2 separate regions of the Homo sapiens genome follow, and region 2 is linked to region 1. A link means that fine-mapping ties the variant in region 1 to the expression of a gene that starts in the linked region. Tissue or cell type: whole blood. Region 1 holds a variant in brackets; the other region holds the start of a gene. All regions are shown on one strand. Distances are between the middles of the regions.

The links. PIP is the estimated chance that this variant, and not a neighbour inherited with it, causes the effect.
Region 2: it holds the start of TAS1R3, and the variant in region 1 is fine-mapped to the expression of TAS1R3 in whole blood (TOPMed, PIP 0.95).

Annotation. Positions count from the first base shown.
Region 1 is chr1:1,426,874-1,434,643 of GRCh38, forward strand. TMEM278 (transmembrane protein 278) reads left to right here. Exons shown (of 2, transcript NM_001146685.2): 2 at 681-3,382. The coding sequence ends at 914. It overlaps LOC107985729, which reads left to right and starts at 6,360. Exons shown (of 4, transcript XM_017003066.2): 1 at 6,360-6,415; 2 at 7,090-7,198; 3 at 7,323-7,529; 4 at 7,663-7,770. The coding sequence starts at 6,360. It overlaps LINC01770 (long intergenic non-protein coding RNA 1770), which reads right to left and starts at 7,700. Exons shown (of 2, transcript NR_125996.1): 1 at 7,315-7,700; 2 at 3,284-3,789. RefSeq lists enhancers at 5,496-6,239, 7,728-7,770, 7,731-7,770 and a silencer at 7,576-7,770. The variant C/T (reference allele first, on the strand shown) is at 4,365.
Region 2 is chr1:1,327,854-1,334,698 of GRCh38, forward strand. It overlaps TAS1R3 (taste 1 receptor member 3), which reads left to right and starts at 3,427. Exons shown (of 6, transcript NM_152228.3): 1 at 3,427-3,683; 2 at 3,785-4,085; 3 at 4,171-4,953; 4 at 5,068-5,271; 5 at 5,406-5,526; 6 at 5,653-6,845. The coding sequence starts at 3,493. The coding sequence ends at 6,611. It overlaps CPTP (ceramide-1-phosphate transfer protein), which reads left to right. Exons shown (of 3, transcript NM_001029885.2): 3 at 1-1,043.

The sequences.
Region 1 (7,770 bases):
AGGAGGGCAGAAGCGGGCAGAACGCGGCAGTGGGCGCTTTTTCTGAGCCTCCCCTCAAGGGACCCTGCTCAGCCCTTTACCTGCTGCGTCCCGGATCTCCTGTTCACCCCTCAGCACTGCCTGGCCCACAGCGGCCCGCCCCCTCCCCTCTCCCCGCCCTGCCTCTCCTTCGCCCAGGCCCTAATCCTTCATCCCTCCATCTCCCCCCTCCCTCTTCCCGCCCTGCTCAGCCCGCCACGGCCCCTCTACCGCCCCGCCCCGCTCTTTCATCTCTATCGCCCACTCCTCTCTCCCGCCCTGCACCCCTCCGTCTCCCTTTGCCGTGGCCCTGCATCCTTTCCTCCACCCCGCTCTCTCTCCCCTCCCCGCTCCACCCTGCTCCCGCCCATCCATCCCTCACCGTCCGGCCCTCACCGCCCCTTCATCACCCTGACCCACCCACACCCTCTCCTCCGCGCCTCCCCTTCCCCTCCATCACCCTGCCCTGCCCCTTCCCCTCCATCACCCTGCCCTGCTCCCCTCTTCTCCCCCTTCCCTCCATCATCCCGCCCGCTCCCCTCTCCACCCCTCCCCTTCCCCTCCATCACCCTGCCCAGCCCCCTCCCCTCCATCACCCTGCCCTGCCCCCAGCCCTCCATTACCCCGCCCCGCCCCCCACTGACGGCCCGCCCGGCCCCCAGGTCCACCCCGCTCCGGGTCCCCGGTGCCGCGCGCTGTTCTCAGACCGCGGCTCCGCGGCGCTCATCGTGTTCGGGCTTCTCTCGCTGCCGCCGCTGCTGGTGCTCGCCTCGGCCGTCCGCGCCCGCCTAGCCCGGCGCCTCCGCCCGCTGCTGCCTCCGCCCGCTGGGACCCCCGGACCCCGCCGCCCCCCGGGGCGCCCCGACGAGGACGAGCAACTCTGCGCCTGGGTGTGACCCGGCGGCCGCTGCGAAACCCCGGGAGGCCTCCGAGCTCGCGCGCGACCCCATCGCGTGGCCCGGCCCGGAAAACTGAGGGTCGCCCCCGCTGCCCCTTCCTGGCTGGGCGCGCAGCGCTCCCGGCTTACGACCCCGGCCTCCCCCGCCCGCAGCCCCGCCCCCGCCACGGAGGGCAGGGGAGGGGAAGAGAGGGGAGGGGAGGGGAAGAGAGGGGAGGGGAGGGGGAGAGAGGGGAGGGGAGGGGAGGGGAAGAGGGGAGGGGAGGGGAAGAGAGGGGAGGGGAGGGGAAGAGAGGGGAGGGGAGGGGAAGAGAGGGGAGGGGAGGGGAAGAGGGGAGGGGAGGGGAGGGGAGGCAAAGAGAGGGGAGGTGAGGGAAAGAGAGGAGAGGGGAGGGGAAGAGAGGGGAGGGAAGGGCAGGGCAGGGCAGAGCCCGGCAGGCAGCCCTCAGAGGAGGGGCGCAGGCCCCAGCCCAAGGCCTCCCGCGCCTGCCCAGGTCCCGGCCTCCATCGTCCAGGGCTCTGGGGCTCCCAGGGGAGACACCCACGCTCGGCCAAGCCCAGGGTTCCAGAAGCCCAGGGGTGGCGGCAGCCGGGCTCAGCCTATGGCCAGGCTCGCATTCAGACATGCGCCAGCCTCGGTCGGCTCTCTCCGGGAGACACTAAGATCTCCTCACTGACTTTGGTGTTCCTTGGTCTCACCAGCGCGTCCTAGCTGTGCCGAGCTCACACCCACCCTGTTTGGTGTAAGCCACAGGTCCACAACGTTCATCAGCTCTGGAAATCCCTCAACAATTGTGTCCAGTTTCACCACGAATTCCTTCTCCATATCCTCACCATTTTCTTTTACCCCCTCATCAAATTACTCCCTTCCGTCTAATCTGCTGATTAACTCATTCATTTTATCTTAAATTATTATGTTAACATATCCAGGCCAGGCACGGTGGCTCACGCCTGTAATCCCAGCACTTTGGGAAGCCGAGGAGGGCGGATCACCAGCTCAGGAGATCCAGATCATCCTGGCTAACACGGTGAAACCCCGTCTCTACTAAAAAATACAGAAATTAGCTGGGCTTGGTGGCGGGCACCTGTAGTACCAGCTACTCGGGAGGCTGAGGCAGGAGAATGGCGTGAACCTGGGAGGCAAAGCTTGCAGTGAGCCAAGATCACGCCACTGCACTCTAGCTTGGGCGAAAGAGCGAGGCTCCGTCTCAAAAAAAAAAAAAAAAAAAATTAGCTGGGCGTGGTGGTGGGCACCTATAACCTCAGCTACTTGGGAGGCTGAGGCAGGAGGATCGCTTGAACCCAGGAGGCAGAGATTGCAGTGAGCCGAAATCATGCCATTGCACTCCAGCCTGGACAACAAGAGCAAGACTCCATCTTAAAAACAAACAAAAAAACAACAAAAAAAATTAGCTGGCCATGGTGGTGCACACCTGTAGTCCCAGCTACTCAGGAGGCTGAGGCACAAGAATCATTTGAACACTGGAGGCAGAGGTTGGAGTGAGCTGAGAGGGTGCCACTGCACTCCAGCCTGGGTGACAAAGTGAAACTCCATCTCAAAAAAAAAAAAAGGTTAGCATATCTAAAAGTTACATCTGATTGTGTTTTAGATTTGTCTGATTTTTTTTATGGTCTCTTGATACATGCTTGCTTTTTAGATTACAGTTTCCACTTCTTAAACATATTTCATATATAGTTATTTTATATTCTGTACTAAATAATTCCAGTGTCCTAGTCTTTGGGGGTCTAAATCTGTGACTGGTGTTTCTGCCGATTCTCATCAGTAGCATGGTGTTTCTCTGAACGTTTGGTTGTTTAATTGTCAGCTGTTATCGGAGACAATTCTGAGGTCCAACTTGGGGATGCTTCCCTCCAGAGACTATTCCCCTTTTCCAGGCGAGACCACCCTCGGCCCCCTCAGTGACCCTTGAGACCCCTGGTTTAAGCAGCCCCTAGGCAGAGAAACATACTTGTTCCCTGGCCGCAGGCTGGCTCTCTGTCCCTGTGTGTGTCCAGGGAGTTATCTGCTTTCCCAACCACTTCCCTTCATCATCCAGGCCTCCACACTACTCTGTCTGTTTGTTTACTTAGAGACAGAGTCTTGCTCTGCCGCCCAGTCTGAGTGCAGTGGTGAGCTCCTAGCTCTCTGCAGCCTCGCCCTCCCAGGCTCAAGTGATCCTCCTGCCTCAGCCTCCCAAGTAGCTGTGACTAGAGTGCACCACCACACCCAGCTAATTTTAAATTTTTTTGTAGAGACGGGGTCTCATCATGTTGCCCAGGCTGGTCTCGAACTCCTAGGCACAAGCAATCCTCTCGCCTCAGCCTCCTAAAGTGTTGGGATTACAGGCATGAGCCACCCCACCTGGCCTTATTTATTTTTGCTGTTTAATTTTGGGGGAGACTCGGAGATATTTACTTTCTTGGAAACACAACAGTCTATTAAAAATGTACGCTCATAGTAATTCATCCAGAAGTTGGTTGTTGCTGGAAGGCCTTTTAAGGGATCTAGTACATCATATTGCCAGCAGGGCTCAGCCTGTGACCAGCAAGGTCTGGGCTCCGTCTGGGGCCAGGGTCAAGGCTCATTCCGTGGCCTTGAGCACAGCCTGGTGTGTGGCTGGGTCGAGTCCAGCAGAAGTCTCGGGGTTTTCCAGCCTCCATCCGAGTCCGGCTTTGATGCCTTTCCTGGTCAGACAGGAGCCGGGCCAGTGGCCAAGCTGCCAGGATGGCTTCCCCGGGGCCGCGGCCGCCTTCCTTCCCCTCCTGCCCGGGCTGGCTCTGGTCGCCACTAGGGGTTGAAGATGAGGGCTCTCCTGGGAAGCTCTTGGCTGAGGATCCGCCTGGTCCCGGAGCCGTGAAAACAACAGCTGGGCCTGGTGGGGGTGGGGAGGCTGAGCGGAGAGGCCAGCTCCCTTGGCTGCTGGGCAGGGTCTTCTGTCCACAGCTGCCTCAGGCGGCTGTTTCCAAAGGTGTTTCCAGCTTCCCAGGCCCACCCTGAGGCCCCGCACCGCCAGGGAGGTGGAAGGCACGGAGCAGCGAAGCCCGGCCCCGGCCCCGGCCGCCCGACCAGCTCACAGAGGAACACCTGTGGGGGGGCCTGTGGGCGGTTCACAGAGGGATGTAGGAACGTGCCTGTGGGAGGCCGTAGCCCCGGAGAGCAGAGGCCTGGCCGGCGGAAGAGAAGCAAGGAAGGGGCGATTCAGGAAGGCCAGAGCCCGAGTGCCGGGGCAGGGGCCCCACCCCCTCACCCCCTCACCCCCTCACCCCCTAGGACAGAAGAGGCCCTCCGTTGGAAGGCAGGGGCCCCACCCCCAGGACAGAAGAGGCCCCACGTTGGAAGGCAGGGGCCCCACCCCCTAGGACAGAACGGGCCCTGCGTTGAGGCCCCTGGGTTCTTCCCCCGGGTTCTTGCCTGGCCCCTTCCATGGATCCTAAGCAGCTCCCTTAT[C/T]GGCCACCATCTGGGAAGCCAGGAGGGGGGCATGAAATGAGGGGGAGGTGGGGCCCCCAGCCAGGGTTCCCCTCCTCAAGGCCCCAGGTATACAGTTGGCCTTTGCCCAGCCCTTCTAGCCCCTGCAGGGGCAGGACCCCACCTGGACCCCATGAATCTCTCCCAACTTTTGCCCAGCATGGTGTCCCTGACCGAAACCCCTCCACTTCAGGACCCTGGGTCCCCAGGCCCGCCCCCACCCTGAGGGTGCCTCTACACCCCTTCCCCCAGAGCCCCTTCCCCCAGCCTGAGGGCCAGGAGCAGCCTCCCTCTTCCTGCAGTCTCTACCACAGCTCTCCACTGGCCCAGGGGCCTGAACTCCTTGGGTGCAGCCGAGCTGCAGGGTGGCTGTGGGGACCTCTGCTTGGCGTTCTTTCCCGGTGGCTGAGGCCCCTGCCCTGCCCAAATGGGAGCCCGGAGTGTGTGTGTGTGGCTGTGTGTGTCCCATCTGCGTCCCTGTCACACGTCATGCCGGAGCAGGGGAGGCAGTAAGGGGCCCCACCCCACTGGATGCAGTGGGCTTCCCACCTTGCCCGGTGTCATTTCCTGATTTGCAAAATATTTCCTGGGAGCAGAGTTGTTGGCAAGCACAGCCTCAGACGGTGTGAGCAGCTGGGGGACCCCTCAGATGTGGCTCCCTCTGTCCCTCCGGCCTGTGCTGGCCTGCCCCTGCCCCCAGGCCTGTAAGCTGGGCAGGCTGTGGGGCAGGAACTCCCCAGGGTGAGTGGGCTGGTCTGAGGGCTAAGGCCCCTGCTCCCAGCTCCGCCCCACCCGCCTCTGGGAGTCCCTTGTGGTGTGTGGACATAGGTCAGTCCCTCCCTGCTGCCTCCTCCCTATCCCAGTCCAGGCCCCTGGGAGTTTTGCGTCTGCCCAGGGCTGTGGCCTGGGCCTGTCTGGACTGTGTCTGGGGAAGGGGCAGCATGTGGTCCTCCTCTCCCTTTCAGGGAAGGATGTCCCAGCAGAGAGGCAAAGTGAGGGGACCCACACAAGGAAGGGGCCCTGCTATTAGGAAACCCTGGGTCATTCAGGCCTGCTGCTCTCCGGCTCCCACCGGGCCGGGCTCTGTCCTCGCTGTGACGAACCTCCTGCCCCTGTCGAGGCCGGCAACACCCTCCACCCGGCCACCCCTCCCGAAGGCCCCCAGCCTGCTCTGCCCCTGCAGTCCTGGCGCAGGCCCCTCCTGCCCACCCCACCCTGCTCTCAGCACTCGCGGTTCCTTCTCTCTGCCTGGAAGGCTCTTCCTCGGGTACCCCTTGCGTGCGAGTCCCCAGTGACCCCCTGTTCTCACAGGGAAAACAAGTAGACCGTATCTTTCCTAGCTGTTCACCGCCCACCCTCCTAGCCTGGCAGTGCTGGCCCGGCGCCTGTGTGTCCCCAGCACTGAGGCTGGGGCGCGGCTGTGCCCAGCACACAGACGAGGGATGGATGGACAGACGCAGATGGTGCAGCTCCCACCCCTACCCAGGCTGCTACCCGCCAGGTGTCTACCCGCCACCCCAGCTGCTGCTGGCACGGGGGACTGAGGGGGGTCAGCTCTGGGGCCAGAGGGGCAGGCCTGGGCTCCTGGGAAGTGAAAAGTGACCCCCGAGGCCCCCAAGACCTGTCCTTGACCCCAGTGAGCAGGTTGAGTCTAGGAGCTGCGTGGGCCCTGCTCTCTTGGTGACCCCTGCTCTGCCCCACTTACTGTTGTGGGGTGGGCTCAGGCACACCCCAGAGCAGTGCCTCAGGCCCGCACCGCTGCCCCTCACCGCCGCTGCCCCTCACCGCCGCTGCCCCTCACCACTGCTGCCCCTCACCGCCCCGTCCATCTGCTCCTGTGTGTGCTTGAGTACGTTTGTGAGATACGTGAAAACAGCAACAAAAGGCGCCGGGTGCGGGCCTGGGCGTCCTGCCCTCAGCTCGGGTCAGGGGTGGGGTCAGAGGCCTCAGGAGTTGCCCTTTTACCCAGGGTCAAACATGACCACAGCCAGCTGGGGACAAAAGGCCCTTCATCTTCTGCAGAAGCCTGGATTGTGCGGAGGAGGGAGCATTCCCAAAGGCGGGTGGGGGCAGGGGCGGTGCCCGGGTGACAGCAGCCTCCCCAGCTTCCTGGAACTCTCTCCACCTGCCTGCAGACAGACCGGCAGGGCAGGCTGGCTCCGGGAAGTGAGGCACAGGGACTCCCACAGCCCAGGCCCAGACCGTGGGGGCGGGGTGGCCGCAGCCAAACCAGGCTGCTCCCCACCCCATGGGGCCCCAGGCCACCAGGATCAGACAGGGGCTGTGCCTGCAGGAGGCAGAGGGCTCGGGGCCAGCACCCACTGTGATCTGGCCTGACCCGTCCTTGCCTCTGCCTCTTACCCCGGGCCCTTCTCCCTGGAGAGTGGAGGGTTCCGGCTGTTATATTTGTGCTTCCTCCGGTGTCTGCCTCAAGTCCGGCCCGGGCCCTGACACTGCACCTCTGGCTGACCCCATGCTCTCTGGGACCCTCTGTCCACGTCCCTCCTCCGGGGTGGAGACAGCGGGGGGAGGGCAGGACACAAGAATGAGTCCTGAAGACTGAGGGGCACGGGGAGAGCTGATGGGGAGGGTCTCCTAGCTGGAGGGACTCCAGGCAGAGCCGGGAGCAAGGCAGGTGGCTGAGCTCGGCCCAGGCTGGGTGGAGGCCAGGCCTCCTGTGCCTTCTCCCGCTGATGGCGAGCTGAAGGGAGGAGGGCGGCCGCTTCCTTGAGGGCCTGAGTCACAGCCAAGAAGACCCGCTCACTTTTTCCAGAAGTGAGGGAAACTTCCCCGTCAGCCCTGCAAGGCTGGCTGAGGTGTGACTGTGGCCCGCCTGCTGGGCGAGGGTGGGGGACAAGCGGGCCACTGGCTGTGAGCCTCCCCAGGGTGGGGGACCCTCGGCCCAGCTCCCTGCCTGACTACCTGGACGTGCCTCCGCAGGGTCTGCAGCCAGCTTCCGGTCAGACCCCAGGTCCTCCAGCGGCTGCGGCCTTCAGCGTCATCTCCACGGCAGCCCCTGTGTACTGGGGGCTGGGGGGCCTGGCGAGGCCCCTCGAAGTGGTACAGCTTGCACTCTGGGGACCCAAAGTCCCCCCACCGGGCCCAGGCGGAAGCACCAGGCATTTCTGGTCCCAGCCGAGGTCTGAGGTCTGTGGAGCGCAGCCAGCACCTCCACTGCCAAGATCCCCGGCAGGGGGGGTGGGGGGCGCCGGCGGGGACACAGCTCTCCCTTGTTCCTGCCGCCAGCTCCTCAGCCTCAGCCTGCTGCTTCCTTTTTTAGGCAAAGTCGAGTGCTGGCCGTCCGCACGGCCCCGCGGTGTCTCACCTGCCTGAAAGGGAGGAAGGAAGCCTGTGGAGCCCCATCCGTTCTCCCGCGGCGCATCCTCCA
Region 2 (6,845 bases), 99 kb before region 1:
CGCTGCGGGAACAGGAGATCCTCTGTCGCCCCTGTGAGCTGAGCTGGTTAGGAACCACAGACTGTGACAGAGAAGGTGGCGACCAGCCCAGAAGAGGCCCACCCTCTCGGTCCGGAACAAGACGCCTCGGCCACGGCTCCCCCTCGGCCTATTACACGCGTGCGCAGCCAGGCCTCGCCAGGGTGCGGTGCAGAGCAGAGCAGGCAGGGGTGGGGGCCGGGCCTGCAAGAGCCCGAAAGGTCGCCACCCCCTAGCCTGTGGGGTGCATCTGCGAACCAGGGTGAAGTCACAGGTCCCGGGGTGTGGAGGCTCCATCCTTTCTCCTTTCTGCCAGCCGATGTGTCCTCATCTCAGGCCCGTGCCTGGGACCCCGTGTCTGCCCAGGTGGGCAGCCTTGAGCCCAGGGGACTCAGTGCCCTCCATGCCCTGGCTGGCAGAAACCCTCAACAGCAGTCTGGGCACTGTGGGGCTCTCCCCGCCTCTCCTGCCTTGTTTGCCCCTCAGCGTGCCAGGCAGACTGGGGGCAGGACAGCCGGAAGCTGAGACCAAGGCTCCTCACAGAAGGGCCCAGGAAGTCCCCGCCCTTGGGACAGCCTCCTCCGTAGCCCCTGCACGGCACCAGTTCCCCGAGGGACGCAGCAGGCCGCCTCCCGCAGCGGCCGTGGGTCTGCACAGCCCAGCCCAGCCCAAGGCCCCCAGGAGCTGGGACTCTGCTACACCCAGTGAAATGCTGTGTCCCTTCTCCCCCGTGCCCCTTGATGCCCCCTCCCCACAGTGCTCAGGAGACCCGTGGGGCACGGAACAGGAGGGTCTGGACCCTGTGGCCCAGCCAAAGGCTACCAGACAGCCACAACCAGCCCAGCCACCATCCAGTGCCTGGGGCCTGGCCACTGGCTCTTCACAGTGGACCCCAGCACCTCGGGGTGGCAGAGGGACGGCCCCCACGGCCCAGCAGACATGCGAGCTTCCAGAGTGCAATCTATGTGATGTCTTCCAACGTTAATAAATCACACAGCCTCCCAGGAGGGAGACGCTGGGGTGCACTGGGTGCCTGATTTCCTGCAGGGGGACACAGGGGCACCCAGTGAGGGTGGGGAGGGCCCTCACCCCAGGGACACAGCTGAGGTGGGTGCACCTAACTCCAAGGGAGCTGAGGCCCCACTGCCAGGCTCAGGGGGCTGTGTTAGCCCCAGGGCTCAACAAACACCCTGAGAAAAGGCCAGCCTTGGAGGCAGGGCTGCTGTGTGCCCATTCTCCCAGAGAGGTCCCATCACTATGCCTGTTGTACAGGTGAGACAAGAGAGAGACAGAGTCACCCAGAACCAAGAGGCTGGGTTGGGAGGACGGTTGGGAGGGCAGACATCCGCCTCTCCATGCAAAAGAGGAGAGGCCTGCGTGGGATGTGTGCGTGGAGGTGGGGGCCACTCCCAGCCACAACAGTGGCCTGGACAGAAAGGGGATGCAATTCAGCAGAGTCTTCCTGGATGTCACCCCCACCTCAGGGTCTGTGGGAGCTGCATATGGTGCCGGCAAAGGCTGCCGACTGCAGTATGGGCCGGGAGAACTGCCTGGGTCTGCGTGGGCCCCAGGGCAGGGCTCCCTCCGGGTGTTGCCTTCTGTACAAGTGCCATGCTTGTGCCGTTTGCGTGTCCCAAGTGCGAGTGTGCTATTTGCGTGTGCCGCACGTGTGCCGTTTGCATGTGCTGTTTGCATGTACCATGTGCATGTGTGCCATCTGTGCAATGTGCAGGTGCCAGTTGCATGTGCCATGCGTGTTGGCCGTGAGCGTGTGCTGTTTTCGTGTATGTGCCATGCACGTATGTGCTGCGTGTTGGCCGTGCACGTGTGCCACGTGCATGTGTGCCATTTGTGTATGCCGTGTGTGCTGTGAGCGTATGCTGTGCGCATGTGCGTGCCATGTGCTTTGCGTGTACCATGTGTGTGCTGTTTGCATGTGCCATTTGTGTCATGCACGTGCCATTTGCGTGCGATGCGCGTGTGCCACACGTCGTTTGCTTGCGTGCCATGCATGTGTGGCATTTGTGTATGTGCCGTTTCCGTGTGTATTGTGTGTGCCGTGTGTGTGCCATTTGCATGTGCCGTTTTGTGTGTGCCATGCGCGTGTGCCATGCACTTGCCGTGCGTGTGCCATTTGTGTGTACCATGCGCATGTGCCATTCGTGTGCACCGTACACGTGTGCCATTTGCATGTATGCTGTGCACGTGTGGCATGCATGTGTGCCGTTTGCATGCCATGCATGTGTTCCTTGCGTGTGCCGTGCGTGTCCCATGCACGTGTGCCGTGCATGTGCCATTCGCGTGTACCATGCGCATGTGCCGTTTGTGTGTGTGCCGCATTCCTGTGCTCGTGTGCCAGGTTCGCATGTGCGCCATATTCACGTGTGCTCAGCATGTGCCATATGCATGTGCGGTGGTAGTGTGTGTCCCTCACAGGTCCTCCTCACAACACCATGGGGAAGAAGCACCAGCCAGGGCACACCTCCTGGTATCTGCTAGGTCTGCCAGGCCCTAGCTGAAGCTGAGTGCCCCCCAGTTCCCCTGGGAGGGCCTGCGCCTGGAGTCTGCTGTGTCCCCGAGGGCACCCCCAAAGCAACACAGAGGCAGAGGAGTCCCGGCCCTGCACACCTGGTGCTGCTCCAGCTGCCGCTCATTTGCCTGTGGCCCTTCCTCCCTTGTTTGCGTGCCCCCCTGGCAAACAAACTCTACCCCCAGCAGGAGCCACCTGTGTGCCTGCCACGCAGGAGTGGCCCAGACGGGGGTCAGCAGTGTGAGTACAGCTGGCCATGCGGTTCCTACAGCTTCCAGGCGTCAGACTCTGGCAGAAGGGCTGAGACCCTCAAGGAACTCTGCTCCCAAGCAGACTGGGAGGGCAGCACCACCACCCCAGGGCCCTCCCCAGCTGCAGGGTGGAGGCCTGGCTGGCCGGCTGCCCACTGGCCTGACTGGTCTGCAGGCCTAGGGGGCCCATCCCTGCTGCCCCCGGCTCCGGCCAGCACAGCCTTGAGTGGGAGCCAGAAGCTCCCGGGGCTGGGTAGGAGGCATTTCTGTGCTTATGAAAAGCCCCAGGGCTGGGTGTCTCTGCATCCCTCCCACGCAGCTGAGACCTCAGAGCCCTGGAGGCCCCTTTGCCCCCTCTCCTCTCCACAGCCTGCTGGGCAACTCCAGGAATCGGGGGGTGGCAAGGGGCTCAGCCACAGGCAGGGAACAAGGCCACGGCCAGCAACTGAGCAGAGCCTGCCTGCCGGTCAACGCTGGCCATAGAGCCTGGCAGTGGCCTCAGGCAGAGTCTGACGCGCACAAACTTTCAGGCCCAGGAAGCGAGGACACCACTGGGGCCCCAGGGTGTGGCAAGTGAGGATGGCAAGGGTTTTGCTAAACAAATCCTCTGCCCGCTCCCCGCCCCGGGCTCACTCCATGTGAGGCCCCAGTCGGGGCAGCCACCTGCCGTGCCTGTTGGAAGTTGCCTCTGCCATGCTGGGCCCTGCTGTCCTGGGCCTCAGCCTCTGGGCTCTCCTGCACCCTGGGACGGGGGCCCCATTGTGCCTGTCACAGCAACTTAGGATGAAGGGGGACTACGTGCTGGGGGGGCTGTTCCCCCTGGGCGAGGCCGAGGAGGCTGGCCTCCGCAGCCGGACACGGCCCAGCAGCCCTGTGTGCACCAGGTACAGAGGTGGGACGGCCTGGGTCGGGGTCAGGGTGACCAGGTCTGGGGTGCTCCTGAGCTGGGGCCGAGGTGGCCATCTGCGGTTCTGTGTGGCCCCAGGTTCTCCTCAAACGGCCTGCTCTGGGCACTGGCCATGAAAATGGCCGTGGAGGAGATCAACAACAAGTCGGATCTGCTGCCCGGGCTGCGCCTGGGCTACGACCTCTTTGATACGTGCTCGGAGCCTGTGGTGGCCATGAAGCCCAGCCTCATGTTCCTGGCCAAGGCAGGCAGCCGCGACATCGCCGCCTACTGCAACTACACGCAGTACCAGCCCCGTGTGCTGGCTGTCATCGGGCCCCACTCGTCAGAGCTCGCCATGGTCACCGGCAAGTTCTTCAGCTTCTTCCTCATGCCCCAGGTGGGCGCCCCCCACCATCACCCACCCCCACCCAGCCCTGCCCGTGGGAGCCCCTGTGTCAGGAGATGCCTCTTGGCCCTTGCAGGTCAGCTACGGTGCTAGCATGGAGCTGCTGAGCGCCCGGGAGACCTTCCCCTCCTTCTTCCGCACCGTGCCCAGCGACCGTGTGCAGCTGACGGCCGCCGCGGAGCTGCTGCAGGAGTTCGGCTGGAACTGGGTGGCCGCCCTGGGCAGCGACGACGAGTACGGCCGGCAGGGCCTGAGCATCTTCTCGGCCCTGGCCGCGGCACGCGGCATCTGCATCGCGCACGAGGGCCTGGTGCCGCTGCCCCGTGCCGATGACTCGCGGCTGGGGAAGGTGCAGGACGTCCTGCACCAGGTGAACCAGAGCAGCGTGCAGGTGGTGCTGCTGTTCGCCTCCGTGCACGCCGCCCACGCCCTCTTCAACTACAGCATCAGCAGCAGGCTCTCGCCCAAGGTGTGGGTGGCCAGCGAGGCCTGGCTGACCTCTGACCTGGTCATGGGGCTGCCCGGCATGGCCCAGATGGGCACGGTGCTTGGCTTCCTCCAGAGGGGTGCCCAGCTGCACGAGTTCCCCCAGTACGTGAAGACGCACCTGGCCCTGGCCACCGACCCGGCCTTCTGCTCTGCCCTGGGCGAGAGGGAGCAGGGTCTGGAGGAGGACGTGGTGGGCCAGCGCTGCCCGCAGTGTGACTGCATCACGCTGCAGAACGTGAGCGCAGGGCTAAATCACCACCAGACGTTCTCTGTCTACGCAGCTGTGTATAGCGTGGCCCAGGCCCTGCACAACACTCTTCAGTGCAACGCCTCAGGCTGCCCCGCGCAGGACCCCGTGAAGCCCTGGCAGGTGAGCCCGGGAGATGGGGGTGTGCTGTCCTCTGCATGTGCCCAGGCCACCAGGCACGGCCACCACGCCTGAGCTGGAGGTGGCTGGCGGCTCAGCCCCGTCCCCCGCCCGCAGCTCCTGGAGAACATGTACAACCTGACCTTCCACGTGGGCGGGCTGCCGCTGCGGTTCGACAGCAGCGGAAACGTGGACATGGAGTACGACCTGAAGCTGTGGGTGTGGCAGGGCTCAGTGCCCAGGCTCCACGACGTGGGCAGGTTCAACGGCAGCCTCAGGACAGAGCGCCTGAAGATCCGCTGGCACACGTCTGACAACCAGGTGAGGTGAGGGTGGGTGTGCCAGGCGTGCCCGTGGTAGCCCCCGCGGCAGGGCGCAGCCTGGGGGTGGGGGCCGTTCCAGTCTCCCGTGGGCATGCCCAGCCGAGCAGAGCCAGACCCCAGGCCTGTGCGCAGAAGCCCGTGTCCCGGTGCTCGCGGCAGTGCCAGGAGGGCCAGGTGCGCCGGGTCAAGGGGTTCCACTCCTGCTGCTACGACTGTGTGGACTGCGAGGCGGGCAGCTACCGGCAAAACCCAGGTGAGCCGCCTTCCCGGCAGGCGGGGGTGGGAACGCAGCAGGGGAGGGTCCTGCCAAGTCCTGACTCTGAGACCAGAGCCCACAGGGTACAAGACGAACACCCAGCGCCCTTCTCCTCTCTCACAGACGACATCGCCTGCACCTTTTGTGGCCAGGATGAGTGGTCCCCGGAGCGAAGCACACGCTGCTTCCGCCGCAGGTCTCGGTTCCTGGCATGGGGCGAGCCGGCTGTGCTGCTGCTGCTCCTGCTGCTGAGCCTGGCGCTGGGCCTTGTGCTGGCTGCTTTGGGGCTGTTCGTTCACCATCGGGACAGCCCACTGGTTCAGGCCTCGGGGGGGCCCCTGGCCTGCTTTGGCCTGGTGTGCCTGGGCCTGGTCTGCCTCAGCGTCCTCCTGTTCCCTGGCCAGCCCAGCCCTGCCCGATGCCTGGCCCAGCAGCCCTTGTCCCACCTCCCGCTCACGGGCTGCCTGAGCACACTCTTCCTGCAGGCGGCCGAGATCTTCGTGGAGTCAGAACTGCCTCTGAGCTGGGCAGACCGGCTGAGTGGCTGCCTGCGGGGGCCCTGGGCCTGGCTGGTGGTGCTGCTGGCCATGCTGGTGGAGGTCGCACTGTGCACCTGGTACCTGGTGGCCTTCCCGCCGGAGGTGGTGACGGACTGGCACATGCTGCCCACGGAGGCGCTGGTGCACTGCCGCACACGCTCCTGGGTCAGCTTCGGCCTAGCGCACGCCACCAATGCCACGCTGGCCTTTCTCTGCTTCCTGGGCACTTTCCTGGTGCGGAGCCAGCCGGGCTGCTACAACCGTGCCCGTGGCCTCACCTTTGCCATGCTGGCCTACTTCATCACCTGGGTCTCCTTTGTGCCCCTCCTGGCCAATGTGCAGGTGGTCCTCAGGCCCGCCGTGCAGATGGGCGCCCTCCTGCTCTGTGTCCTGGGCATCCTGGCTGCCTTCCACCTGCCCAGGTGTTACCTGCTCATGCGGCAGCCAGGGCTCAACACCCCCGAGTTCTTCCTGGGAGGGGGCCCTGGGGATGCCCAAGGCCAGAATGACGGGAACACAGGAAATCAGGGGAAACATGAGTGACCCAACCCTGTGATCTCAGCCCCGGTGAACCCAGACTTAGCTGCGATCCCCCCCAAGCCAGCAATGACCCGTGTCTCGCTACAGAGACCCTCCCGCTCTAGGTTCTGACCCCAGGTTGTCTCCTGACCCTGACCCCACAGTGAGCCCTAGGCCTGGAGCACGTGGACACCCCTGTGACCATCTGGGCCCCAGAGCCAAGCTGTGTCCCTGTCCCTCTGTGCCCAGACCAGGCCT